Linked DNA regions of Homo sapiens: all the other regions are linked to region 5. Evidence: fine-mapped expression QTL. A gene starts in region 5. Each other region holds a variant in brackets. All regions are shown on one strand. Distances are between the middles of the regions. Region 1 overlaps NT5C2 (5'-nucleotidase, cytosolic II). Region 2 overlaps SUFU (SUFU negative regulator of hedgehog signaling). Region 3 overlaps SUFU (SUFU negative regulator of hedgehog signaling). Region 4 overlaps SUFU (SUFU negative regulator of hedgehog signaling). Region 5 holds the start of SLC68A1 (solute carrier family 68 member 1). Region 6 overlaps SUFU (SUFU negative regulator of hedgehog signaling). Region 7 overlaps ACTR1A (actin related protein 1A).

Evidence for each region. PIP is the estimated chance that this variant, and not a neighbour inherited with it, causes the effect.
Region 1: its variant is the best candidate, but not a certain one, in a credible set for the expression of SLC68A1 in prefrontal cortex (BrainSeq, PIP 0.72).
Region 2: its variant is the best candidate, but not a certain one, in a credible set for the expression of SLC68A1 in whole blood (INTERVAL, PIP 0.83).
Region 3: its variant is the best candidate, but not a certain one, in a credible set for the expression of SLC68A1 in prefrontal cortex (GTEx, PIP 0.64).
Region 4: its variant is the best candidate, but not a certain one, in a credible set for the expression of SLC68A1 in whole blood (TOPMed, PIP 0.57).
Region 6: its variant is the best candidate, but not a certain one, in a credible set for the expression of SLC68A1 in whole blood (INTERVAL, PIP 0.52).
Region 7: its variant is the best candidate, but not a certain one, in a credible set for the expression of SLC68A1 in whole blood (INTERVAL, PIP 0.70).

The regions. Positions count from the first base shown.
Region 1 is chr10:103,092,858-103,096,923 of GRCh38, reverse strand. NT5C2 (5'-nucleotidase, cytosolic II) reads left to right here. Exons shown (of 19, transcript NM_001351169.2): 12 at 944-985; 13 at 2,469-2,576; 14 at 2,886-2,952; 15 at 3,615-3,785. Among named protein-coding and RNA genes, the nearest start is that of NT5C2, 98 kb to the left of the region's middle. The variant G/TTG (reference allele first, on the strand shown) is at 2,044.
Region 2 is chr10:102,630,437-102,634,502 of GRCh38, reverse strand. SUFU (SUFU negative regulator of hedgehog signaling) reads right to left here. Exons shown (of 12, transcript NM_016169.4): 12 at 968-4,066. Among named protein-coding and RNA genes, the nearest start is that of TRIM8-DT, 11 kb to the left of the region's middle. RefSeq lists enhancers at 1,450-2,195, 2,196-2,943. The variant G/A (reference allele first, on the strand shown) is at 1,680.
Region 3 is chr10:102,574,403-102,578,468 of GRCh38, reverse strand. All of the region lies in intron 3 of SUFU (SUFU negative regulator of hedgehog signaling), which reads right to left. Among named protein-coding and RNA genes, the nearest start is that of TRIM8-DT, 67 kb to the left of the region's middle. The variant T/G (reference allele first, on the strand shown) is at 1,800.
Region 4 is chr10:102,535,692-102,539,757 of GRCh38, reverse strand. The region is part of intron 2 of SUFU (SUFU negative regulator of hedgehog signaling); the gene reads right to left. Among named protein-coding and RNA genes, the nearest start is that of SUFU, 34 kb to the right of the region's middle. RefSeq lists an enhancer at 2,422-2,581. The variant A/G (reference allele first, on the strand shown) is at 1,724.
Region 5 is chr10:102,459,629-102,463,694 of GRCh38, reverse strand. It overlaps SLC68A1 (solute carrier family 68 member 1), which reads right to left and starts at 2,300. Exons shown (of 10, transcript NM_024789.4): 1 at 2,245-2,300. LOC124902493 (a long non-coding RNA gene) reads left to right here. Exons shown (of 3, transcript XR_007062270.1): 3 at 1,635-2,902. RefSeq lists enhancers at 1,218-1,900, 1,901-2,584, 2,712-2,781 and a silencer at 2,222-2,441.
Region 6 is chr10:102,559,110-102,563,175 of GRCh38, reverse strand. All of the region lies in intron 3 of SUFU (SUFU negative regulator of hedgehog signaling), which reads right to left. Among named protein-coding and RNA genes, the nearest start is that of SUFU, 57 kb to the right of the region's middle. The variant G/A (reference allele first, on the strand shown) is at 2,145.
Region 7 is chr10:102,487,950-102,492,015 of GRCh38, reverse strand. ACTR1A (actin related protein 1A) reads left to right here. Exons shown (of 11, transcript NM_005736.4): 2 at 1,403-1,467; 3 at 2,878-2,953; 4 at 3,741-3,866. Among named protein-coding and RNA genes, the nearest start is that of ACTR1A, 13 kb to the left of the region's middle. The variant T/A (reference allele first, on the strand shown) is at 1,934.

The DNA.
Region 1 (4,066 bases), 630 kb before region 5:
CAATAGATGCTGCACAGATGTTTTGGCTCTTAGCTGTCAAAATTTATATATCTTTTTTTTTTTTTTTTTTTTTTTTTTGAGACAGAGTCTCACTCTGTCGCCCAGGCTGGGGTGCAGTGGTGCGATCTCGGCTCACTGCAACCTCTGCCGCCTGGGTTCAAGCAATTCTCCTGCCTCAGCCTCCCAAGTAGCTGGGATTACAGGCACCTGCCACTGCGCCTGGCTAATTTTTTTGTATTTTTAGTAGAGACGAGGTTTTAACATCTTGGACAGGCTGGTCTTGAACTCCTGACCTCGTGATCCACCCACCTTGGCCTCCCAAAGTGCTGGGATTACAGGCGTGAGTCACTGTGCCCAGCCCAAAATTTACTACCTCTTAAAAACAGTTTTTTCCCATGATTAAAGCATGTGGAAAAACTGATCTAACTCCTTAACTTCATCTTACTTTTGCTGAGACACTTAAAAATTTATAGTACTGGCAAGAAGTTCCACTTCCCCCAATTCGCTGTACATGTAAACTTGATTTAGACACCTGGTGATTTGTAGTAAACAGTCTTACATAAACCGTTGGTTTGTTGACTTAGTTGGTCTAGGGATGGCAGTAGCGAAGCCAAGGTGATAGGTTATTTCTGTGTGAGTCATTAGTTTTCTCTATACCCCTACCTCATATGCTCCTTTCCTCCAAATGTGTGTTCAAAAACATCTTCCAGAGGAAGTATGTATCCTCCCTGAGAATGTCAGAAGCCTTTTTTTCTTTTTGGTATATGGTAAAGCATTAATTTCTGGCTTCCACTGCCATGATTTCATAAAATTTAGAGGAAACAAGAATGTGGTGAGTCCTATGTTGAAAAAGACATGTTTTGTGAAAAGCTTGTAATTTCTTTAGGTTATATACCTTTTGCAAAAGTAGTATATGGACCTTATGTTAAATTTTTTTTTCCAGAAAATTATGACTTACCTGTTTGACTTCCCACATGGCCCCAAGGTACCGTATGTGACTCAATAGACCACTGCTTTAATAACAATGAATGCATTTAATCATTCTGGAATATTAAGGGGGAAAGAATTGGTCAGAACCCACCCAGAAAAGTCCTACTTTTTAAGCCTATTGTCTAATCTTCATTAACATTAGAAGTAATCCAGGAGCTAGTAGAATTTAAAATCAAATTGCTAATTTAGAGTCCGCAACTTGAATACTTAATAGACAGAAATAAAAGGGATATTCATGTGATATTTAGTAGGATGGGATCAGAATAATTTTATGCCCAAGAAGTTCTATGCAAAATTAAGTTTGTGTGGCAATGAAAGGAATTTTCAGGTTGTGGATGATATTTGATTAACAGAAACAGAAAATGTATGTGTATTCTTGACAACTTCTAGATTTTGTATTAGTTGTTGCTAAGTTTTTGCCAAGAGAGCACTCAGCCTTGATATTTAGCAGAGAAGTCTTCATTTCTGCAGTACGGCTGCACTTAGGTTTAAGGAATACTCCTTGCAACTTAGTCACATACTTACAGAATTTTAGTCCTAGACTTTAGTGAATAAACATCAGCAAATCCCTGTTTTGAGAACACCTGAAATCACAGTGTGCAGTGCCCTTCAGGTTGGTCTTAAAAGGTTAATGCCAGGGTTCCATTTCAGGATAGTCATGATTTTAATGGGCATAACTCAGTATTGTGATTAGCTTACACTGTGAGCCAAAAGCCAGTGTGTACCTAGAGCCATCATTCTGAGAATGTAACCAGTAAAATTTCCTAATAGTTCCATGTTAGTTTGTATACTTTAGCTCTGATGCCTGCCTCTGTCTTAATCTGTCCCTTGGGTATTGATTTGCATCTCTCCCTAGCTCTTTTGAGCTCCTTTTAGCAAATTTCAGGTGAGCACACTTTCATAAAGTGCTGTAAAATAAGTATTGTAATTTAGTAGTAGATGAAATGATTTAATGTATAGAATGTGTTATTACAGTTATTTATTATTTATATCTTGTCTGCTTCCCAAAGGATATGGCTTATAATACATAGACACAATTTTTTTTTTTTTTTT[G/TTG]AGATGGAGTCTTGCTCTGTTGCCAAGCTGGAGTGCAGTGGCACGATCTCGGCTCACTGCAACCTCCCCCTCCTAGGTTCAAGCGATTCTCGAGCCTCAGCCTCCCAAGTAGCTGGGACTACAGGCGCCCGCCACCACGCCCGGCTAATTTTTGTAGTTTTAGTAGAGACAGGTTTTCACCATGTTGGCCAGGATGGTCTTGATTTCCGGACCTTGTGATCTGCCCGCCTCGGCCTCCCAAAGTACTGGGATTACAGGTGTGAGCCACTGTGCCTGGCTGACACAATACCTTTTTAAAAAATAAAATAGTGGGATCTTCTGGCTATACTTAGTATTTTTATATTCCTTGCATCTGAGTGAGATTAAATAGTAATGCCTTAAGGTAAGGAGTGATGTTTCAACTTTTGCTGTTTCTCCTTCACCAGCCTGGGAGCTCCCATCGACCATGGCAGTCCTACTTTGACTTGATCTTGGTGGATGCACGGAAACCACTCTTTTTTGGAGAAGGCACAGTACTGCGTCAGGTGGATACTGTAAGTCATGAGAATGATCTGTCTTGCTAGCACATTGTCCTTAATGTTTCTCCTTCCCCCACTCTTACTCTACATAAGGAAACAGGAATTTTTTTTTTTTAATTAGCCGTATCTCTCTTTTGAAATTAAGAGTTTTGGTCTTAACTGAAACAGTCAAACAAACCCACTAATTGAAAAGAGTAAGTGCCATTCATTTGGCTGTCTGGCCAAGTAGCACTGGTGGTGGGGGGTGGGATGGGAGGGTTGTGGGGTGAGGGGAGGATTGTGATAGGATGATAAAGTATTACAAAATCCATATTCTTCATACAGAAAACTGGCAAGCTGAAAATTGGTACCTACACAGGGCCCCTACAGCATGGTATCGTCTACTCAGGAGGTAAGTCACAGACTTCCCTTTATTTAATGTCTTTGCTCAGACCTCACAGTGAAAGCTTTGGTAATCTCTCAGCAAAGTGCCACATATACTGTTTAGTAGTCTAAGATGTCATCTACTGAAGGTAAATAGTTTAGTCACCTCTTAATGCAATAGGAGTCTGGGTTTGAGCAGTTGTTAGTATATCCTAATGAATCTGATTTTCACTAAAATGATCAGTTTTTTTTTTAAATCCTATTGGAGGCTTTTTCTCAGTGCTTCGAATCACTTGGGGGTACTTCTCAATATGTTCTCAAGGGTTTCTCAAGGAGTTCCATGGGTATAGGTACATAGTATGTTGGAGTTATAAACAGTTGAGTAAAGCCAGCTTAATGGCAGATTTGTGATGAAATTGGCAGTGGCTGTTTTGAAGGTTATTTTCACTAAGCTGAGGATGTAGTTTTGTTGCTCTTGGATTTGGTGAGCAAGAGCTCTGGTCAGCACAGTGGAGCTGAAGGCCTTGTCTTAGAAGGCAGTAAAAAGAGAATGGTGAGTCTTTGTCTATTCTTCCTAGTCTGTTCCTCATATAAGAATAAAATGAATCATAGTATTTAATGGTTAAATACTATTGGAATGCTGATTTTAATATAGGGACAGTTTTCTCATTGTTCACTCTGTTGGTTCAGGTTCTTCTGATACGATCTGTGACCTGTTGGGAGCCAAGGGAAAAGACATTTTGTATATTGGAGATCACATTTTTGGGGACATTTTAAAATCAAAGAAACGGCAAGGGTGGCGAACTTTTTTGGTGATTCCTGAACTCGCACAGGAGCTACATGTCTGGACTGACAAGAGTTGTAAGCCATTCATAAATCTTTGGTGTAATTTATATCTAAATGACCAGCTTTGAATCAGTCGTCTTTGATAAACCATTACTTTGTATTCAGGAAGTCAGAGGTGGTCAAAAGGCAGGCCTTGATATTTGGATACTTCCTTCCCATAGAATATTCAGATATTTCACAGAACTCCAGAATTTGAATAAATATGAGAGGTTATCTTGTTTAACCTTCTTGAATCTCTTCGAGGTTAAGTTTAGAATGTTGGCGTCTTGAGTTGTGTTACAGTAACACTAAGTTGT
Region 2 (4,066 bases), 170 kb before region 5:
AAGGGAAAGGGCATGAGGGCCCCAGACAGGACCTGCTGCACTGCTCCGTTGGAGAGTTCAGTAAGAGGCTGCAGGGGAAGGAGTGCGGACCTCTCAGCAAAGGCCCCCCACATGGCTAGGTCTCACAGAAGGGACAGGACATAAGAACCCCCTCATAGGAGCTGACACCCCCTCTCCCTTGCTTATGATGTCCTAGGACCTCCGCCCCAGCCCCCAGCCCCAGCCAAATCCCCTGCCACTATCCAGGATAGAAAACCAGAAGGGAATGAATATGTGAGGGCCCAGGTGGTCACAGGTTCCAAGAACTCTGTCTGGGCGCAGCCCTTATCCTGCCTGCCAGGCTAGTGCCTTCTCCCCCAGCTCAGTGCCTCCCCACACTGGGCGTTGGGCTGTTTTGCTGCCCCCCAGCCCTGGAGAGGCAGGAGCTGGGCAGTCCAGGAAAGGAAGATATACCTGATACCTCCCTCCACTGCCAGGCCCAGTGGAGTTGCTAGGGCGGGTGGGCTGGCCTCTGTGTCACCCAGTGGGTGCCACCGGTTCTGAATTGCCCTTCTATCTGGATCCTGCCCCTGGGCCCTGGATTAGGAGGTGGAATTTAGATGTCATGTGAGAGGAGCTGGAAGCCGGGCAAGGACTCCAAAGGAGATGAGGAGGGCCTGCCCTCCTCACCTGTCTGGGCCCCTCTTCCTAAGGCAAAAGGGGTTTTTGGTGAGAGGAGGATAGAAGAGGGATGTAGTGGCAGGGAGAGGGTCTTTTCCCACCGCCTCATCTCCCCAGACTGCTCCTCGCTCCCACCCCCTTGACCTTAGAGGAATTCAGGACCAGTGAGGGAGAGCCTGTCCTTGCAAGGTCATTTCTTCAAGACTGAAGAGCCACCAGCTGTGTGATCCCACTCTCTGGCACCTCCTCCACTCTCGACAACAATCCTGGGGGCCTCCCTCCATCCTGGCTTCTAAGTGGCTAACAACAACCCACTCCCTCTGCCAGGGCCCCGGGCTTCCGGCTCCACTACTTCAGGCAGCCAGAAATGAGCACACAACCCAGGCACTTCTGCAAAGATGTTTAATGCACTTAGATTACAGAGAGGAAGAGGGGGCAAGAAGGAAACGACATCTAAGTGAGTCACCCAAAAATTCTTACAAAAGTCCCAGGCTGGCTGCAGCCCCAGGAACCGAGTCGCCACTGACATTAAAAACTAATATAAAATTTTACAAAAATCTGCTTGTCGCAGCATTCAGGTACTTGTACAAAAGGAGGGGTCTCCCTACAGGGCTCCTGACTTGTAACAGGGACCCAGGCACCTCACCTGGCATGGATGTCCTAGAAGCCAGAAAGGGAAGACCAGACACAAAAATACAGTAAAGGAAATTCTCTACTGGTCAGCCCCATAGGGGCACCGACCTTCAGGTTTTCTCCCTGCTTGCAACTCAATCCGAAACCCCAGTCCCAAGACCCTGTGTCTATTTTTAAAAATGCTCTAGCCCTTTTAGACTCTCCCCTTGGCTTCTCCAGTCCCTGCCTTGGAGCACTGCCCTTGGAAGAGAAAGATACGGGCAGGAAGAGGCACCAGCTCCCCACACAGGCCTGAGACCTCGCACAAGCCTCCCAAACCCCCCTCAGAATTGCAGCTGAGTCTGCAGTCCTCCTGCAGCCCACACTGAGCCAGCAGAGCCACAGGA[G/A]CCTGCCTTATATAGCAGGCAAAGAGGAAAGGGAAAGGCCCTTCTCAGAAGCTCTAGCACCAGGGACCTGGAGGGGTGGGTACAACTAGGCAAGTCTCCAAGTAGCTTGCAGAAGAGGCAGATTTAGGGAGGGAGGCCCCTTACCTCCTCCACCCACTACAAGGTCAGGGGCTCCCTCAGAGCTGCAGGGAGGGAAAGAAAGGGTACATTCACCAAGCATCCTGTGCCAGAAGCTGTGCTGGACAGGGTCCAAGGTCAGCTTGGCTTGATCTTCTTTAAGGGTCCTCTCTCACCAGCCAGCAGCCCAAGAAACCTCTGGGAGGCACCAATGCCCATAGGAAAGGAGGCCTGGTGAGAAATGTGTGATACCCTGTCCTGCCCTCAGAGCCAGTGAGATGGAGCCTGGCCCCTGCAGGATCTTGGGTGAGCGTGAGGCTCCTGACATATTGCAGGTACGAAGGGGCCACAGGCTTCATGTGCTCATCATCTCGGAGCTCACCCACTTCCTCCTGCCTTACCCTGCTCCCCCAGAACAGGGCCACCATGCTGGCTGGTGTCTACCTTCAGTCCACAAAGACCCTCCAGGTCTGGGGCAGGTTGCTGACCAGGTGCTTCACAAACTAATGACAAAGCTTAGCTCAGAAAATGCCCCATCCCCACCCAACCAACGATGGAGGCACCCAGCAGATGGAAGTACGGCGAACTGCAGCAGGGAGCCCTCAGGCAGGTCCCGAGCAAGAGAGAGTTCAGGGAGAGGCTGGTCATGGTGGCAAGGAATGGAGGCGAACTGATGGCACCTCTCTGCCTGTGAAATGTCAGAAACAAGAGCTTCACAGGCAGGGCTGCTGTGGTGGGGGAAGGCCAGTAGGGCTCCCTCTGGTAAGTCCTCAGGGCAGTAGAGGCACAGCTGCCGACATCAGGTCCCGAGTGGCTTGCATCTTGGCTGGCGGGGATCTGCAGCCAGTCTCTCCCAAATACTCCAGGCTGATATGCCTTTTAACTCTGAGCTTGATGGAATTAACCAGATAGCCCTGGGGATGTGTAGAGGAGGCCAGGCCTAGTGGCTCCATGGAGGTCCAACTCCTGCTCCCTGGAGAACCCAGCTGGTGCCCTCATACCCCTGGGGGCAGCTCTTTGGCTGGATCTCTCATCAGTGGAGTCCTGCACCCTGTGGGCACTCCTGTGGCATCCCTGCTGGTGCCTGTGTGTGCAGCAGAGGCAGATGGGAGCAATGAGGAGCCCTGCATTGTCATGACTTTGCTTTGAAGAGGTGTAAAGAGTGATCTTGAAGTATTGTAACAGTCCCATCCCTAGAGTTGGGGGTAAGAAGGCAGGAAAGGGGCTTGCTGGTTCCAGGTCAGGCGTGGGAGATAACCCGAGAGGAACTCCAAAACCATGGGCTAGAGATAGGCTGGCTTCTGGAAGGCAAACTGTGAGATCTGCAGTACTGGGGGTGAGGGGCTGAGGACCACGAGAGGCCAGGATGCCAGAAAGGAGAGGGATTAGGAGTGGAGAATGAAAGATAGGGCATGAATGGATACAGGGAGGATGGGAGGGCAGCAGAGAGCAGTGTTAGCAAAACCAAAGTGAAAGAGATGTTAAGAGGTGGATTTTTCAATTTTAGTAAGGCAGCCCTACAGCCTGAAGGCTGGGAGGCCCAGGGACTGAGGAAATGGGACAGGACTGGTTACAGAGCTGGAGACCCAGGCCCTGAATGACAGTGGGGATGGTGTGTGATGTGCTGAACCTCACCCTCTCCCAGGTAGGCCTGGTTGGGTGGAAAAGGCCTAGAAGATGAGGCTGGGGTCACCAAGTCTTTGAGACCCATTCACTTGGAAAACAGTAGCACCCCTCCCTGGCCCCAGCTAAACTAGGCTCAAAGCTGCACAAGGGAGTGTCTCTACTCTCCCCCTGCCCCGGGCTCCACCAGGCCCAGCTGGGAAGAAAAGCCTCTCTGTGCAGCCGGCTCCTCCAGGGCTCTGGGCTGGCAGGCGAACACCAAGCACCTTCTCTGGTGGCAGCCCAGGGAGAGATACAGCCCTAGGCCTCTGTCAGAGAATGCGAAAGTTCAACGGGGAATGAAGTTCTGTTTAAAAAACATTATATACATGGCTTCTGGACATCTTTGCAGAGCAATAAAATACCACCCGGTTTCTACAAAATAAAATAAGGAAGAAGAAAACCAAACATGATCAGAGGAATTGTTCCGCGGCCAGAGGAGCTTGAGTAGCAAAGGCTTCCAGAGATGAGCTGGGAAGTGCATCCACTCGCTCTGCATCTGGCTGTCCGCCTCCCTCCTGCTGGGCTGTGCGGCAGGGGGTAGGTGAGAAAGAGGGCTGTCTCCACCTAGGGGCACAGCCAGGGTCCAGAGTCAAACCTCAAACCAG
Region 3 (4,066 bases), 110 kb before region 5:
CAAAGTGCTGGGGTTACAGGTGCCACTGCACCCAGACTAATTTTTGTATTTTTAGTAGAGATGGGGTTTCACCATGTTGGCCAGGCTGGTCTCGAACTCCTGACTTCAAGTGATCCACCCACCTCGGCCTCCCAAAGTTCTGGAATTACAGGCATGAGCCATCATGCCTGGCCCCAAGCCTCTTTGTTCTTTGTTTTTTGTTTTTGTTTTTTTTTTTGAGACGGAGTCTCGCTTTGTCGCCCAGGCTGGAGTGCAGTGGCGCGATCCCGAGTAGCTGGGATTACAAGCGCCCACCACCACGCCCAGCTAATTTTTTTGTATTTTTAGTAGAGACGGGGTTTCACCATGTTAGCCAGGATGGTCTCGATCTCCTGACCTCGTGATTCACCCGCCTCGGCCTCCCAAAGTACTGGGATTACAGGCATGAGCCACCAGCCTCTTTGTTCTTAAAGCCAAAGGGACTAAGGAGGTTTTAAACTCGTAGTCCTGGCCAGGCACGGTGGCTCACGCCTGTAATCCCAGCACTTTGGGAGGCCGAGGCGGGCAGATCACGAGGTCAGGAGATGGAGACCATCCTGGCTAACATGGTGAAACCCCATCTCTACTAAAAATACAAAAAAATTAGCCGGGCATGGTGGTGGGCACCTGTAGTCCCAGCTACTCAGGAGGCTCAAACAGGAGAATGGCGTGAATCCGGGAGGCGGAGCTTGCAGTGAGCCGGGATCGTGCCACTGCACTCCAGCCTGGGCAACAGAGCGAGACTACGTCTCAAAAAAAAAAAAAAAACAACTCGTAGTCCTATATACATTTCAACCAAAGAATGCCAGGAGGGCTGGGTGCAGTGGCTCACGCCTGTAATCCTAGCACTTTGGGAGGCTGAGGTAGGTGGATCACTTGAGCACAGGAGTTTGATACCATCCTTGGCAACATGGCAAAACCCTGCCTCTGCAAAAAATACAAAATTTAGCCAGGTGTGGTGGCACATGCCTGTGGTCCCAGAGGCTGAAGTGGGAGGATCACTTAAGCCCTGGGAGAGGGAGGCTGCAGTGACCCATGATCACACCACTGCACTCCTGGGTGACAGAGTAAGACGTGAGACTCCATTTCCAAAAAAAAAGAAACAAGAAAAAAAAATCCCAGGAAATCCTTTGAAGCTTTAAAATCCAAGACTAGCCTGGCCAACATGGTGAAACCCTGTCTCTACTAAAAATACAAAAATTAGCTTGGCGTGTTAGTGGACGCCTATAATGCCAGCTACTCAGGAGGCTGAGGCAGGAGAATCGTTTGAACCTGGGAGGCGGAGGTTGCAGTGAGCCAAGATGGTGCCACTGCACTCCAGACTGGGCAACAGGGTGAGACTCCATCTCAAAAAAAAAAAAAAAAGAAAAGAAAAAATCCAGGACATGCTTCTACTCCTCCCATCTTCTTCCTGAAGAGACCAGTTAAATCAGGAATGAAAACCCATTTAGACTGGGTACAGTGATTCACACCTGCAATCCCACAGCTGAGGCAGGAAGGTCGCTTCAGACCAGGAGTTCAAGACCAGCCTGGGCAACACAGTGAGACCCTGTCTCTACAAAAAAATTTAAAAATTAGTCAGGCATGGTGGTGCACACTTGTAGTTCCACAGCTACTTGGGAGGCTGAGGCTTGAGGATCATTTGAGCCAAAGCATTCCAGGTTACAGTGAGCTATAATTGTACCATTGCACTCCAACCTGGGCAACAGAGAAAGACCCTGTCACTGCAAAACAAAACAAAACATTTAGTTGCCATGGACCTATAAACTAGTATGGTCACT[T/G]TGGAGGACCAAATGGCAGAATCTATTAATATAAAAGGTAACTTCCCTTTGACCCAATCATTCTACTTATAAATATCTACCCTAGAGCAAAACATGTCACAAGGAGGAATGAATAAGGATGGTCACTGCATCTTTGTACTGTTTGTAATACTGCAAAAATGGCAACAACCTAAAGGTGCATCACCAGGGGAATAGTTAAATTATGGTTTATTCATACAATAAAATCACAGACAACAGTAAAAAAAATTAAATAAAGATCTTCAAGACATACCGTCAACTGAAAAATCCAATTGTGAAGGGCAGTACAGTTTCATTTACATTAAAGAAAGAAAAAAAAACATAGAAACCCAAACCATTTCATAGGTACCCAGAAGAAGGTGAATACATAGAAAAAAATCTGGCAAGCTGCAAGGACGCACACCAAATGGATAAAGAGGGTTTCTTTAGCGAGGGCCCTGAGATTGGGTGGGGTGGTCACAGAGAACTTTGACTTTATCTGTATAGTCTAAGTTTTTAACATCTGAGGTCAGTTGCAGTACCTCATGCCTGTAATCCCAGCACTTTGGGAGGCTGAGGTGGGTGGATCACTTCAGTCCAGAAGTTCAAGACCAGCCTGGACAACATACCAAGACCCCATCTCTACAAAAAAAAAAAAACACAGAAAAATTAGCGGGGTATGGTGGCATGTGCCAGTAGACCCAGCCACTCAGAGGCTAAGGTGGGAGGATCACTTGAGCCCGGGAGGTTGAGGCTGCAGTGAGCCAAGATCACGCCTCTGCACTCCAGCCTGGCCAACAGAGACCCCGTTTCCAAAAAAAAATCTGAAATTTATTTATGTATTATCTATATACTTAATGTTGGAAAGATGATCCTCCTCCTTGACCCCTCTGCTATGTGGCACCAGCAGCCATCACACTGGCTACTGTGGCATCACTCCAAATGCAGTGGCACTAATCTGGACATGCCAGGAAGCTAGGTGGTATGATTTGAATGTCTGCCTCCTTCAAAAGGTATGTTGAAACTCAGTCTCCAATCTAGCAGTATTGAGAGGTGGGGCCTTTAAGAGGTGATTGGGTCATGTGGGCCCTGCCCTCATATATAGATTAATAAGTTAATGGATTATCACAGAGGTGGACAATGGGGGTAGAAACTGGTGGGTTTATCAGAATAGAGACCTGAGCTAGCAAGTTCAGCCTCCTTGCCATGTGATGTCCCTGGGACTCTGCAGGGACTCCTCACCAGCAAGAAGGCCTTCATCAGATGGGGCCCTTTAACCTTGGACTTCTCAGCCTCCATAACTGTAAGAAATAAATTCCTTTTCTTTATAAATTAGCAGTTTCAGATATTCTGTTATAAGCAGCAGAAAATGGACTAGAACATTAGGAGCCATCCTTGGCTGGCAACTAAAATGGCACCACTGGCATTTTCAACCAGGCTAGCTTTTTAAAAAAATTTTGAGACAAGGTCTTGCTCTGTTTCCCAGGCTGGAGTGTGGTGGCACCATTATGGCTCACTGTAGCCTTAACCTCCTAGGCTCAAGCAATCCTTCCACCTCAGCTTCCCGAGTAGCTAAGACTACAGGCACACCACCATGCCTAATTTTTTTTTTTTTTTGAGACAGAGTCTTGCTCTGTCACCCAGGCTGGAGTGCAGTGGCTCAATCTCAGCTCACTGCAACCTCCGCCTCCCGGGTTCAAGTGATTCTCCTGCCTCAGCCTCCTGAGTAGCTGGGACTACAGGTGCATGCCACCATGCCGGGCTAATTTTTTGTATTTTTAGTACAGACAGGGTTTCACCATATTGGCTAGGCTGGTCTTGAACTCCTGACCTCATGATCCGCCTGCCTTGGCCTCCCAAAGTGCTGGGATTACAGGAGCCACTGTGCCCGGCCTGTTTCAAGGCTTTTTTAGTGACGAAGATAAAATACATTTTTTTTAAAAGAAAGAGAAAACACATCTTTTGTTCATCTTGCTAATTAGAATCCAAATTTAAGAATATAACATTTTTACTTATTTGATTTTATATTTGTATCTTTTATTTATTTTATTACTGTTTTAGAGACAAGGTCTCACTGTGTCACTCAGGCTAGAGTGTAGTGGCACAATTACAGCTCACTGCAGGCTCAAATTCCTGGGCTCAAGCAATCCTCTCGTCTTAGCCTCTCAAACAGCTGGCACTACAAATGTGAGCCACAACGCCTGGCCATATATTTGTATCTTTCTAATCTTATGCTGAACATCTTGCTTTCTAACATAATTACTTATTTG
Region 4 (4,066 bases), 76 kb before region 5:
TAGAGAGCCCTAATACATTGATATAAATAAATGAATAAGTAAGTAAATATGGAGAAGACTCTTCCTTACAGTAAAATCTCAATATCAATGAATGAATGTAGAAACAATTATCAAATGAGAAGTCACCATTTGACAACTATTGTAATAATAATTCAGGCAAGAATCATCAACGGGTGGTAAAAATAGTGGGTAAAAAATCTGATGAGAAACAAGATACTGACATAGCCTCAAAATGCCTTCCCACAAGTTACTTATTAATTATTAATGGAAAAGCAGTAACTATACAGAAGAGAAACCTAGCAGACACCACCTTAACCAAACAATCAAAGTAATTAGACATCATCAACAGTAATTAGACAAATCAACATCAAGTGCCTCCTGATATGATCACTAAGAAGGGCACAACATGTCTGTGATATTCCTATGGAGAAATACATACACTGATCCTACGCATGAGGAAACATCAGATAAATCCAAATTGAAGGACATTCTATAAAATAACTGACCTGTACTCTTCAAAAGGTCATGAAAAACAGAAAGATTGAGGAAACATTTGAAGGCATCTAAGAGATGTGACAATTAAGTTACTAAAAAAGACTCTGGAGTCACTGAAGCAGGGTGACCAACTTGTCTTGTTTGCCCAGGACTTTTCTGGCTTTAGAACTGAAAGCCCCACATACCAGGAAAAGCCCAGGCAAATGGGGACAGTTGGTCAACCGATCCTGAAGTGTCCACTGTCTGACCCGCACAAAGCAAAACACTGCCACACTTAAAAAGCACTGAATATGCATCAAGAGCCACCAAAATGTCAGCAGTGCCAGAGCACAGTCTCTGAAGCCAGGCTGCCTATGCCCAAATCCTAGCTCTGCCACCCTTCCTGGCTGTGTGACCCTTGGCAAATCACTTAGCCTCTCTGTACCTCAGTTTCTTCATCTGTAAAATGTAGATAAGAAGAGTTTACTTCTCTTCTTATCTACATTTCACTTATATACCTTCTCACTTCTAATGTAAACTATGAACTTTGGGTGGTGATGATGTGTCAACGTAGGTTCACTGACTGTAACAAATGTACCAATCTGGGTAAGGATGTTGACAGCGGGAGAGGCTGCATACATGTGTGTGTGTGCATGCATGCGTGTGGTAAGCAGAGGGTGTGTGGTAGCTCTCTGTACTTTCTGCTCAATTTTGCTGAGAACCTAAAACGGCTCTAAAAAAGTCTTTTTTCAAAAACGAAGATAATTGTAGTTTCCATATGGTAGCTACTAAAATGAGTTAACATATAATATAGAAAACACTTAGAACAGCACCTGGAACACAGTAGATCTTAGTGTCAGTGATTACTTACAGTAGCAGTTTCCAGTTCTGCTAATTTACCTAAGGGAATAATCTTACATTTGGAAAAAAAAAAGCCTCTTGCATAAGTATATTCAGTAGTATTTATAAGAATAAAAAATCTAGAAACAATCTAACTGTTCTACAAGTAGCGGTATTATATGAGTTCTGGCACATTATGTGGTAGGACATTACAAGTCACTAAAAACAATGGTTCTGAAAGCAGAGGGACTAATCTTTGAGAGGTGAGGGGTTCTCTTTCCACCTCTTACTGGTAAAGAGGAACAGGAACTTTACATCAGAACCCCACTCTATAGCCTCTAATGTTTTCTGTTCACCTATTATTCACTATAGCATAAAAATAAACTCCTTTCACAATGGTCATGAAATT[A/G]GGACCCTTACACATTGCTGGTGGAAATGTAAGATGATACAGCTGCTATGGAAAACAGTATGGCGGTTCCTCAAAAATTAAACATAGAATTGCCACATGATCCAGCAATTCTACTTCCAGGTATATATCCAAAAGAACTGAAAGCAGGGTCTTGAATAGAAATTTGTATACTGATGTTCAGAGTAGCATTATTAGCAATAGTCAAAAGGTAGAAGCAACCCAAGAGTCAGTCAATAGATGGATGGACAAGCCAAATTGGTATACACATATAATGGAATATTAGCCTTTAAAAAGGAAGAAAATTCTGACATCTGCTACAACATGGATGAACCCTGAAGACATTATGCTAAGTGAAATAAGCCAGGCACAAAGGGACAAATGTCATATGATTCCACTTATATGAAGTACCCAGAGTAGTCACATTCATAGAGACAGAAATAAGATGGTGGTTGCCAGGGTTTGGAGGAAGTGAGAAGGGGGAGTTATTGTTTAAGGGGTACAGAGTGTTTCTGAAAGTGGAAGGTGGTTATGGTTGCACAACAAGGTAAATGTACTTAATTCCACTGAACTGTAAATCTAAAAATGGTTAAAATGGTAAATTTTGGGCTGGGTGCAGTGGATCATGCCTATAATCCCAGCACTATAGGAGTCCAAGGTGGGAGGACTGCTTGAGCCCAGGAGTCTGCGACCAACCTGGGCAACATAAGGACATCCCATCTCTACAAGCAATTTAAAAATTAGCTGGCCATGGTGGTGTGCAGCTGTGGTCCCAGCTACTCGGAGTCTGTAGCAGAAGAATCACTGAGTCTGGGAGGTCCAGGCTGCAGTAAGTTGTGGCTGCACCACTGCACTGCAGCCTGAGTGACAGAGCAAGACCTTGACTCAAAAAAAAAAAAAAAAAAAAAGGTAAATTTAAATTATGTAGGCTGGGTGCAGTGGCTCATGCCTGTAATCCCAGCACTTTGAGAGACCAACGCGGGCAGATCACCTGAGGTCAGGAATTCAAGACCAGCCTGGCCAACACAGTGAAACCCTCTCTCTGCTAAAAATACAAAAATTAGCTGGGTTTGGTGGCACATGCCTGCAGTCCCAGCTATTCGGGAGGCTGAGGCAGGAGGATCAGTGGAGCCCAGGAGGCAGAAGTTGCCGTGAGCTAAGATCACACCACTGCACTCTAGCCTGGGCAACAGAGTAAGACTCCATCTCAAAAAGTATAATAATTTAAGAAAAAGATAAGTTATGTACATTATGCCACAAATAAGTAGTTATGAAAAAACACAAAACAAAATTCAACATAAAGTATGATTCAAAATGTTGATGTAAATACGAAATTTTAAATGTGAGTAAAATATATAAGGGAAAAAGAAAATGCAGGCCAGGCATGGTGGCTCACGCCTGAAATCTCAACACTTTGGGAGGCCGAGGCAGGTGGATCACGAGGTCAAGAGATCGAGACCATCCTGGCCAACATGGTGAAACCCTGTCTCTACTAAAAATACAAAAATTAGCCAGGTGTAGTGGCAGGCGCCTGTAGTCCCAGCTACTCGGGATGCTGAGGCAGGAGAATTGCTTGAACCCGGGAGGCGGAGGTTGCAGTGCGCCGAGATTGCACCACTGCACTCCAGCCTGGCAACAGAGTGAGGTTCTGTCTCAAAAAAAAAAAAAAAAAAAGCAATAAAATTATTATAGTGGCTACTACAGTATAATTTTTGTTTTTCAAACTTCTTTGTATTTTCCAAAATTTTCTACCATTTATAATCTCCTGGCCAGGCACAGTGGCTCACGCTCACGCCTGTAATCCCAGCACTTTGGGAGGCCGAGGCAGGTGGATCACCTGAGGTCAGGAGTTTCAGACCAGCCTGGCCAACATGGTGAAACCGTCTCCACTAAAAATACAAAATTACCGGGTGTGTTGGTGGGCGCCTGTAGTCCCAGCTACTTAGGAGGCTGAGACAGGAGAATCTCTTGAACCCAGGAAACAGAGGCTCTAGTGAGCTGAGATGGTGCCACTGCACTCTAACCGAAGCGAGACAGAGCAAGACTCTGTCTTAAAATCATCAACAACATCATCATCATCATCATCATCATCATCATCATCATCATCTCCAGCCTAGACTATAAACCCCACAAGGGCAGGGTTGTATCTTGGTCACTACTGTATCTGCAGGTCTAGCGTGCAAGGCTTCACATAGTCTGTTGCTAAGTGTTCATATGCATATGCCAAGGACATGGCAAGAGAGGCCCAAGGTCAGGCCCCTTCCTCTGGGGGTGGCCTGGATGCTTCCATTGGTCTTTGAAGCAAGGAATGCCAGGCCAGCCACGGTGGCTACTGACCCTGCAAAG
Region 5 (4,066 bases):
TGCTGGAGTCAAGATTCAAAACAGGTTTTGACTAAAACAACAGCGTTCTCACTTCATCATCCCCCCCACACCCTGCCCCCATCTTATCAAATCCTGCTCATCCAGTGTCACGGCTTTCCCAAGCACACCCAATCACGTGTTCTCTCCCGTTTTCCCCCTTATCAGGCATCCAAATGCCTCCCTTCCCCTCCTCCAGCCCACAGGCTTCTTAAAAGCAGGGCTGATACCGGGCGCGGTGGCTCACGCCTGTAATCCCAGCACTTGGGGAGGCCGACGCGGGCGAATCACGAGGTCAGGAGATCGAGATCATCCTGGCTAACACGATGAAACCTCCTCTCTACTAAAAATACAAAAATTAGCCAGGCGTGGTGGCGGGCACGCCTGTAGTACCAGCTTACTCGGGAGGCTGAGGCAGAATAGCGTGAACCCGGGAGGAGGAGCTTGCAGTGAGCCGAAATCGCGCCACTGCACTCCAGCCTGGAGGACAGAGTGAGACTCCGTCTCTTAAAAAAAAAAAAAAAAAAAGCAGGGCTGGGTTAGTCCCGCCCTTGATCCCTGCCCTTTGCCTCCACCAGGCTCCCTCAGCTTGCTCAGTCAATCCCTGCTGGGTCGATTGGCCCCTAAAAGGTCAATATCAACAACATCCTCAGCCCTAGGGAACAGCAGCAGCAGTCATAGGAAAACTGTCATCTTCAGACCCCACTGTGCCCCTCCTAGCTCTGTGTTCTGCTTAACTGTGGGAGTCAGAGAGAAGGGGCAGCCTGGGAGGCTTGATGTGCCTCTCTGAGTAAGACACTAAAGCAAGGCAGCAGGTACAAAGAAGAATAGTGATCATAACAGAGGAACATTTATTAAGCTTTCGCCGGGTGCACAGCACTGTGCTAAGAGACACAGAAACAATCTGGGAAGAGAGCTCAGAGCAGCGCGGGAGAAAGGGGCCACATCAGGAAGGGTTTTGTAAACCTTGTGCAAGATTCTATGCTGAGGACAACAGGTGGGGCGCTGGGGGTGGGGAAGTGACAGATCTGTTTGGAAGAAGCCCTCTAGCAGGTGTCAAAACTCTTCCCCTTCACCCTACCAGGCCCCTGGTAGGTAAAGACTAGAAAGGGATGGAAGCAGCAACATCTCCCTGATTTCTGAACCAACCTATGGTGGGTGGGGGAGGTTGATGAATTTAGTGGCGGAAACCAAGAATGCCGAACTGGGCCCCTGGAGTGAGAGGTATCAGACTGTACAAGAGACATTAGTGCAGAGGTAAAAGCTAAGAAGAGGCATAATTTGGAGTCAGGAGCCCTGGGTCAGGTGTGAACATTATCTTTAACTTACTATCTGAGTCTATTCCTACATCTGTGAAGCAGAGAAAACAATTCCATTCTCTGCCTATCCTCAGGAATACCAAATGAACAAATGAACATGAAAGGTATAATATGTGCCCTTTTCTCAACAGGCAGCTGACCCCTGAATTGTCTGCTGTGTTTCCTGTTTCACTCTCGGGGTCTTGTCTTCCTGCCCAGTCTCCCCACAGCAGGGTCTAGCACCAGGGTTGGGGGGTGGGGGCCCATCCTCCTCCTCCGGCTGGAAATGAGCTTTCAACTTGTTGAGATGGGGACCTTCTCCCTCTCCCTCCCCCACAGGTCCCAGAAGAGGCGACAGCTTCACCTCAGGACCACCCACCCCTCCCAAGCCACTGAGGAGTTTGGGATCAGCCCAGGAGCTCTTCACTCAATAGCTGGTGCTGAAACACGTGTAGGGCTGCTCCCCACCGCCTGCACGTTAAAATCACCTGAGGAGCTGTGCAATAATACCGAGGCCCAGGCCTCACCCAGAACAGTTAAATCGGAATCTCTTCGGGCGGGCCCAGCATCGGTGTTTTTCAAAGCTCCCCAAGTGCCACCAGGGTTAAATGCCTTTATGCTAATGGCACGGATCCCGACCTGACCAGTGCATCCCTCGATCCCAGACCACCAGGGAGCTATTTGACCCACTGCATCCCTTTCCTCCAGACCCCCGGAGAGCCTTTCTGCGAGGATTCCACCCTTGCCCCCTTGAACCCCGCTTCTTCCGCCCGGACCACACAACTCTCCCAATCCACAATATGATCACCCCAAAGACCCCCGCAGATAGCCCCCATGACTCCCAGAGCGCAAAGCATTCCCCTCCCCCTCGGGTCTGTCGTTTGTGCCAGATCGGCCCCAGCCCAGCCCGCTCCTGCCCGCGAGCCCCGGCCGCTGGCCAGCGTCTCACCGCAATCGTAGCCGGCGAAGCCTAATCCCACGGCTGGCGGGAGCCAGGTGCGAGCCAATGCGCCTGCGCGCACTTCTAGGGCTTCCCCAGCCTCTCCCTCCGCCCCCGCCCAGCGATTGGCTCCGCGCGGCCCCCGGGCGCAGCTCCGGCAGGTGACTGCGCCTGAGGCTGCCGCCGCCATGTTTGTCACGGGCGCTTGCCCTTAGCGACCAAAATTAAAAGCGGACACTGGCAAATAGGGTCAGGTTGCCTGGATTCCTGACCGGCTCAACCCCTCTCCTTTACCTCCACGATAGCTTAATGTCATTTCAGTTGAAACCAACACGTTTTTTCTAAGCGCTCACCTTCCTTCCCTCCTTGCCTAGTACTCGTTGGGAGAACAAAGAGAGGTCAGCATCCTCCATTGAGTCTTGTGGTCTGAGCGGATGCACAGCTGCAGCCGACTTGGAGGTGTCAGCGGCTCGATCTGGGACTCCCTGATGCTGCATCATGAGCCCTTCAAGGGTGGACAGGTCCAGGTTGAGCTGTGGGCACCAGGGCTCTAGCCACAGGAGCCAGGGCTGAAGGTGGGAAACAGCCACCAGGGCCTGAATGAGCAACCATGCAGCACAACCTCTTTGTATTAATAACGGCAATAATAAAACCTAAGGAGTACTGAGTGCTTGCTATGTGCACCGTACTACATTCAGAACAACACGTGCATTCTCTTGTTGAGTCCTCACATCATTCCTAGGAGGTAGGCGCTTTTATCCACATTTTATATGTGAAGAAACTGCATTTCAGAGAGATTCAATGACACGCAAACAGCAAGGGCCCAGTCGAGGTGGAACCCGCTATCCTGACTCCCATAACAAGAGTCTTTCCTCTTCCCACACCTGCACAATCCCTCAAAATCAAGTTTTGTTTGGCTCAATGTAGGCTGTGGAGGATGTTTTATGTTTTCTCCCAATTGGCCTGTAAGCCTGGATAGGTTTTTGGGCAAGCAAACAGCACACATTCCAGCTCTGCCTGGTTCCCCTACCTTGGGACACAGGGCAAAAAGCCTGTGGCCTTTGCCTTATGGGGGACTTGGAACTCAACCCCTAGCTCCAACACTTCTTTGCTAAGGGACTTCTTTATTATTATTTTTTGAAACAGGGTCTTGCTCTGTTGCTCAGGCTAGAGTGCAGTGGTGGCATGATCTCAGCTCACTGTAACCTCCACCTCCCTGGCTCAGATGATCCTCTCACCTTAGCCTCCCAAGTTGCTGGGACCACCACCTCACTCCACCATGCCTGGCTAATTTCTAGAATTATTTGTAGAGATGGAGTCTCACTATGTTACCCAGGCTGGTCTTGAACTCCTGGGCTCAAGGGACCCTCCCGCTTCAGCCTCCCAAAGTGCTGGAATGATAAGCGTGAGTCACTGCACCTGGCTGGGACCCTCCTTTTGTGAGTCTGTTTTATGCTTTACAGGGATTTTTCAGACATTAAATGAGAAACAAGGGTGTAGGAGCTTTGTGAACTGCTCATCCTTATGACCTTCATTGATGGTTGTCGGCTAACTTCCTGCAACAGGAATGTTGTCCTCCTCCTAACAACCACAGCAAATGGTCCAATGTAGACGCCTAGTGTCCAGGGGCTACAGATTATTCAACCAGTTCCTGAGGAGCCCCCAGGGATGCCATGAACCTTGCCCCCAGAATCCATCTCCCACTAACCTGTCTCATTTCCCTCCTTCCCAATCTCTCTCTTTCGGACACCCTTCACACTTCCCATGTCACCCCAAGCCACACATACACGCACACACATACATACAACCATCTCTCTTCTAGACTTAGACA
Region 6 (4,066 bases), 99 kb before region 5:
AAAGCTCCTTTTCCCCAAGTCCTCTCTCTTCATCTAAAATGGACCCTTGGCGGCTGAGAGGCTGGAGCACGCAGAGCAGGCTGGTTAGACTGTCCCTGGAGGCTTGCTCTTGCCACTCAGCAGCTATAGGAAGTTCTCCAGGGCCCATCACCTCCCTATCGCCTCATCTGAAAAGGGGCAATATGAACCAGTATCTTCCTCACCACGCTACCCACCGCACAGGTTAAATAAGAGAAGGTAAGTACCTATGATATTGGTGCTCAATATCTACTGTTTTGTTTTTTTGAGACGGAGTCTCACTCTGTCGCCCAGGCTAGAGTGCAATGGCACGATCTCAGCTCACTGCAACCTCCGCCTCCTAGGTTCAAGCAATTCTCATGCCTCAGCCTCCTGAGTAGCTGGGATTACAGATATGCACCATCATTCTCAGCTAATTTTTGTATTTTCAGTAGAGATGAGGTTTCACCATGTTGTCCAGCCTGGTCTTGAACTCCTGGCCTCAAGTGATCCAACTGCTTCAGCCTCCCAAAGTGCTGGGATTACAGGTGTGAGCCACCACAGCCAGCCAATACCTACTGTTTTATTTACTTACTTTTAACTATAGAAAAGCAAGTTTTGTTGTTGCTGTTGTTGTTGTTGTTGTTGTTGTTTTTGAGACAGAGTCTCGCTCTGTTGCCCAGGCTAGACTGTAGCGGCGCGATCTCGGCTCACTGCAACCTCTGCCTCCCAGGTTCAAGCAATTCTCCTGCCTCAGCCTCCCGATAGCTGGGACTACAGGTGCGTGCCACCACACCCAGCTAAATTTTTATATTTTTAGTAGAGACGTGGTTCCACCATGTTGGCCAGGATGATCTCAACCTCTTGACCTCGTGATCCACCCACCTGGGCCTCCCAAAGTGCTGGGATTACAGGCGTGAGCCACCGCACCTGGCATAGAAAAGCAAGTTTTAAAAAAGGGCCTCAACAGGAAAAGACTGAATCACATCTGTTAACTTTTGGGAAGGCAAGAGGAGGCAAACCCCAAGAAAACTCTACAATGCATTGAGGTTCCTTATGTAAAACATGACTTGCTGTCAATATCTGGAAAAGTCTCTCTGACTTACAGAGGCAGGCTGTGTCCCTCAGCACTTCCAACTTCAGAGACAGGAAGCATGATGGATGGATTCCTGGAACTCTAAACTGTGCAACACACTGTATAAGGTTTGCTAGCCAGGCGCAGTGGGTCATGCCTATAATCCCTCCACTTTGGGAGGCCAACATGGGCAGATCACTTGAGCCCAGGAGTTCAAGACCAGCCTGGGCAACATGGCGAAATCCTGTCTCCACAAAAAATTTAAAAATTAGCCGGGTGTGGTGGCATGCACCTGTAGTCCCAGCTACTTGGGAGGCTGAGATAAGAGGATCAACTGAGCTCGGGAGGTCAAAGCTGCAGTGAGCCATAATCGTACCACTGGACTCCGGTCTGAGCAACAGAGTGAGATCCCATCTCAAAAAAAAAAAAAAAAAAAGCTTGCTGGTCTTTCCTAACCCTAAATGCATGCCACATAGTGTGTATGAACCAATCTCTCTGGCCAAGGAACCTAAGAAGGGGGACCTATTCTCAAGGACTCAGTAAAGTATTTTGTTGCTATAAAAACACTAGGCTCGGTGCAGTGGCTCACATCTGTAATCCCAGCTACTCAGGAGGCTGAGGCAGGAGAATCACTTGAGCCTGGGAGGTGGAGCTTGCAGTGAGCCAAGATCATACCACTGCACTCCAGCCTGGGTGACAGAGCGAGACTCTGTCTCAAACAAAACACACAAACAAAAACAACCACTTTTATATAATGATCCTTCTATTGTTTGTTGAAAATAACGATAACATTTACTGGATGGCCCCAATAGTATTATTTTAATAACATATTAATTTATCTAATTCCTCCTCACTTTAAAAATCCTTTAGCAATGGTTATTAACATGTAAAGGTTAATTTCTCCACACCTGGCTAAGTGATCCCATTTAAAGGAATTTATCCTGAAGAAATACTCCGGTAAGGCTGGGTGCAGTTGCTTATGCCTGTAATCCCAGCACTTTGGGAGGCCAAGGCGGGCGGATCACCTGAGGTCAGGAGTTCGAGATCAGCCTGGGCAACACGGTGAAACCCC[G/A]TCTCTACTAAAAATACAAAATTAGCCGGGTGTGGTGGCACATGCCTATAATCCCAGCTACTCGGGAGGCTGAGGCAGGAAAATCGCTGGGAGGAGAACCTGGGAGGCGGAGGATGCGGTGAGCCGAGATCGCGCCATTGCACTCCAGCCTGGGCAACAAGAGTAAATCTCCATCTCATCAAAAAAAAAAAGAAATACTTCGGTAAGAATACAAAGATGTACATATACGAGGACGCTCACTGCAGCTTTGTGAAAGGAAAAAATTAGAAATGACCCAAATGTCTAACAATAGAAGACTGGTTAAATAAAGTACAGTATATGTAGGTATTAAAAAAGTGTCGCGTTAAAAAGAACATCCTGACAGATGTCCAAATGATAGTAAGTTAAAAAAGCAAGGTGAAAAACAGTATGAAAAGCATAGTCCATTTTTACAAAATACTGCAAGTTCTTTTTTTTTGAGACTGAGTCTTGCTCTATCACCCATGCTGGAGTGCAGTGGCGTGCTCCCAGCTCACTGCAACCTCCGCCTCCCAGGTTCAAGCAATTCTCGTGCCTCAGCCTCCCAAGTAGCTGGGACTACAGGCATGTACCACCACACCTGGCTAATTTTTGTATTTTTTTTTTAGCAGAGATGGGGTTTCATCATGTTGGCCAGGCTGGTCTCAAACTCCTGACCTCAAGTGATCCACCCATCTCAGCCTCCCAAAGTGCTGGGATTACAGGTGTGAGCCACTGCGCCTGGTCAAAATACTGCAAATTCTATCCAGACATACGCATGGCAAACAAAACCTGGAAAGAGGAACACCAAAGTTTTCTCTGTGAGGGAATGAATTATGAAGGACTTTCACCTTCTGTGTCAGATTTTAAATTTCTAAGTTTCAATTTTATAATGAGCAAGTATTTCTTTTGTAAACAGGGGAAAGGGAAGAAAATGTGAAAACAAAAAAAAATCTCTGTTAGCATTAGAGTCTGTCAGTACCACAGGGTTGGATCAGCCATGAGCTCTGATGGCCTGGGAGAGATCCCTACTCATGCAGTGCCATCCCAGCACTCAGAAATCGAGCCACTCACAAATCGAGCCAACTGAGCACATGTCATGAGGTTGCCATTAAACAGCAGCAAGTGAAGGCACTTCAATTTCCAGTGTCAGTTACAAGGTTGGGGAGATACGTTTTTCCTAAAAACGCAAATGAAATTGCCTTGGAATTTGTGGTTAAAGCCTACCAATGGCAGAACTGAGAGCAGATAGCCTCTCCAGCAGAATTCTAAAGCACAGTTCAGAAATCAAGCCCTGTTGAGTTGGGGAATGGTTTCTTTCTAATGAAACCCAGAGGATGGGGGGCAGGGGAAGAGTAACTGGCAATCTGAAAAGAATAAACTGATCGTAAAATGAAAGGGGAACAGGGAAGTAAGAAAAACTGGCTGCAAAGTAGGACAGACAGACATGGATGTGTCTACTGGTGAAGTTACTGATACATTTATTGCAAAACTTTCCAAACGACTCATGCCACAGGCTAGATTTGTTTGTAAATCTGCCATAGCAGGTGAAATGACAGCCATCCTGTCCTCGTGACTGGAACATTCTCTTCCCAGGCCCAGTGTCCTGATCAATAGGCAAGGTTCCTCTGATCCCAGGCAGGGCTGGGGCTTCTTAGGTGGGGAGTGTTTTGCCCACACGATGGGCATTCCCCTCCTTACTAACAGAACCCCAATTTTGGTTTTCTGCCTTTTCCTGGCCATTCCCTTCTGCGAGCCAGGCCCATTCCCAGCCAATATCATCCTTGACCTAACTCTAGCCAATGAGATGCAAAGGGGACACCAATGAGGGCGGTTCTGTGGAGGTTTTGGTTCATCTTTAAAGGACATAGGACAGAAATGTCTCTCTTACTGCCTGTAGACTCTGTCAAGGGTGATCAGGACGC
Region 7 (4,066 bases), 28 kb before region 5:
GGGCGGATCACGAGGTCAGGAGATCGAGATCATCCTGGCTAACACGGTGAAACCCTGTCTCTACTAAAAAAAAAAAAAAAAAATTAGCCAGGCATGCTGGTGGGCACCTGTAGTCCCAGCTACTCAGGAGGCTGAGGCAGGAGAATGGCATGAACCTGGGAGGCAGAGCTTGCAGTGAGCCCAGATTGCACCACTGCACTCCAGCCTGGGCGACAGAGCGAGACTCCATCTCAAAAAAAAGGAAGAGGACAGGGTGTATCTACAAGCAATACTAAGCCTTGACATCTGTCCTGCACAGGGTTGGTCTCTGTGTCCAGAGTCACTGTTTACATTGATTGGGCCCTGGGTGGTACCTGAGATGCTGGGAGAACTCAGATTCTTTTCTGGACACCTCACTCGACATACCAAGTGTTGGAGCAGCAGGACTGTGGTTCTCTTCTATTCTCAGAGTAGGCTTTAGTCTTTGCTTCTCTTTACCATCAGGAGACCAAGGAGTAAAAGGAAAGCATAGTTAAAAAGAAAACAACAACAAAAATCTCCCAAAGCATCGTGCTCTGCCCTTGCAATAAGAACCAGACAGCACGTGTTCCATGGGAGTCCATTTCAAGCATGACAGTGCTCATGGCGGTGTCTGTCACAGAGGCCCTGGAAGCTGGGAGAGTTCAGGCCTGAGCTGGGAAAGTAGGTTAAAAGCACCCCAGGGTGGCGTAACAAGGAGTCATGTGCTTTTCCTACCTTATGTTCCTGAACTTGGCTGCTTTGATGCTTCTAGGTACTTTCTTCTTTCCCCAGGTTTTCTGTCTTTTTCTTCCCTTTATTACTAGTATTTTTAATTCCCAAAGCAAAACATGTTCAATGTAGAAAAGTCAGAGACTACAGAAAAATCACACATACGGTTGTGTATACAGTGAGAATCCTCCTCACCATCCTATTTCCACTTCCCTTCTTTTGGTGTGCATTTACCTTTTTCTAGGTTCAAATAAATGTATATATTATATACAAATATTAGTTTTGTTTTTTTTTTCCTGTGAGACAGAGTCTGTCACCCAGGCTGGAGTGCAGTGGCACAATCTTGGCTCACTGCAACCTCTGCCTCCCAGATTCAAGTGATTCTCCCACCTCAGCCTCCCAAGTAGCTGGAACTACAGGTGCCTGCCAACATGCCCAGCTAATTGTTGCATTTTTACTAGAGACAGGCTTTCACCATGGTGGCTAGGCTGGTCTCAAACTCCTGACCTCAAGTGATCCGCCTGCCTCTGCCTCCCAAAGTGTTGGGATTACAAGTGTGAGCCACTGCGCCCGGCCGCTTTCTTTTCTTAAATAAAAATGGTACCATATAATGTATTTTTCCTTTTGTATTTGTGATAGTTCTGACTCCTCATTCTCTCTCCTCTTTCCTCAGGGATCCGGTGTGATTAAAGCTGGTTTTGCTGGTGATCAGATCCCCAAATACTGCTTTCCAAACTAGTAAGTCATTCTGTAGCTTAGACGTTTTGGAGGCTCATCAGCTTTGTTACAGGCCCAGCCCTATAAGGGACAGGAGCCGAGTTTGGAGTCAACAAAGGAAAACAGTTGTCTACATGGTACAATTTGAGAGGCACAGATAAGAGGCCTCTTTTTAAAAATCCAATTTTATCTGATGCTAAAAAATTTTATCATTGGTAACTTATTGCTTTGGAGGATTGCCTCTTGGTGGAGCCCTCCTTTTAAAATTCTCCTATCACCCAGGCTGGGGATTAACATTTAACCCATCTACCATCTTTTTTTTTTTTTTTTTTTTTTTGAGACGGAGTCTCGCTGTGTTGCCCAGGCTGGAGTGCAGTGGTGTGATCTTGGCTTACTGCAAGCTCTGCATCCCGGGTTCACACCATTCTGCCTCAGCCTCCCGAGTAGCTGGGACTACAGGCGCCTGCCACCGTGCCTGGCTAATTTT[T/A]TTGTATTTTTAGTAGAGATGGGATTTCACCGTATTAGCCAGGATGGTCTTGATCTCCTGACCTCATGGTCTGCCTGCCTCGGCCTCCCAAAGTGCTGGGATTACAGCCCTTCTACCATCTTAATGAGGAGTTTCTCAGAACTTTCCTCCTAAGACAGAGAGACTGCAGGCAGGAGAAGAGCACAGAGGCTTACAGGAAGGGCTTAAAGGGGGAGGAAAGGAAGAGGCTATCTGTCCGATCTATAGCATCACAGTTTTTTTTGTTTTCTGAGATGGAGTCTCATTCTGTAGCCCAGGCTGGAGTGCAGTGGCGCAATCTCGGCTCACTGCAACTCCTGCCTTGCAGGTTCAAGCGATTCTCGTGCCTCAGCCTCCCAAGTAGCTGGGATTATAGGCATGTGCCATCACGCCCAGCTAATGTTTGTATTTTTAGTAGAGATGGGGTTTCACCATGTTGGCCAGGCTGGTCTCAAACTCTTGACCTCAAATGATCCACCTGCCTCAGCCTCCCAAAGTGCTGGGATTATAGGTGTGAGCCATCGAGCCCAGCCCAGCATCAGTTTTACTTAGAGGTCCTGGGAAGGGGACTAAGGACACTAAAATGTTTTGAGTTAATCACTCCTTTAGAAATTCTCATTTCCTCATCTTTCTTGGTCTGTTCATACACTGCAGAAAGAGAAGAACTAGAGGTATTAAATACTCTAAAAATTTGTTTTCATAATTTATAATAAATATAAAATATGAAATAATATATAAATAATACATGTTCATTTTAGAAATTGTGGAAAATACAGAAAAGTATAAAGAAGAAAATCAAAATCAACTGTGACTTCACTCCTTGAAGATAATCTCAGTAGAATTTGAGTGTGTATGTACATCTATACATCCTTCCTGTGTTCTGTCATGAAATGAAAAATGATGGTCCTCCTCACTGTCTTTTCTAGTGTGGGCCGACCCAAGCACGTTCGTGTCATGGCAGGAGCCCTTGAAGGCGACATCTTCATTGGCCCCAAAGCTGAGGTAATTCCCAGGCCTACAGAACAAGCCTTAAGCCAGCAGAGGACCTTCATTATTCACCACATGGAACATGTCCCAACATTTGGACATACCCATAAGTAAAAGGGGCAACTTTCTCTGAAAATCTCCTTTTTGATTCTCTCATCCTAGGCTTAGGTGGTTTATTTTTCCCAGGAACAGCCTGTGGTCTTGGAGAAGAAAATACCTGGGACCTCACTTTGGGACACACTGAGACCAGTCTAGGAAACAGGGCTGTTGTCTTCTGCATCCTGTCACTGCCTTGTCAGTGATCAAATTTACTGTGTTTATTATTTTTTTCACAAAAAATATTCAGTGGGGAGATCCTGGCTGGGGTACCCTAGGGATGAGTTAATTCACACAGCTTTGTCAGAGCCCTCATGCAGCCTCTTGTAAGCAGATAGCAGAATCGCTGTTGCCATCCTTGGCTTCAAGTGCTGAGGCCCAGAGGTGGGAGCCAGGAGATTGTGTCCTGGAACCAGGCAATGAGGAAGATGCCTCCTGCCACTTGCCCTAGAGGCACCTGAGGGGCCATGGAAATGCAGAAGCCCCTGCTTTGCCGGCTCCTCGGGAATGAGGGCAGTTTGCAGCAAACAGTATTTAGCCTTGGAGAATGAGTGCCCACCCTTAGCCCTGGGCAAGGACAGCAGGGTGGAAGCTCAGGAAGCTGAGGCTTCTTTGCAAGGGATTCAGCTTGCACTGCTTAGTCTTGGGAGAACAGGGTCCTGGGTGGAGCCTGACTGCAGTCGTAAGTCCTGTTCTCTTTTCCCAGGAGCACCGAGGGCTGCTTTCAATCCGCTATCCCATGGAGCATGGCATCGTCAAGGATTGGAACGACATGGAACGCATTTGGCAATATGTCTATTCTAAGGACCAGCTGCAGACTTTCTCAGAGGAGGTGAGGATCCTGTGTGTAGGGCACTCCTGTAGGGTATGCAAAGCTGTGTCAAACTCCTACCCTAGAGATGATGAGGAGGACGATGATCACTGCCAAGAGTGCTGGAGCCATTTGATTTTCAGGCATATTCAGATTTAATCTTAACACCATTCCTATGAGATATAGGTAGTATTATCTCATTTTACAAACAAGGGAACAAG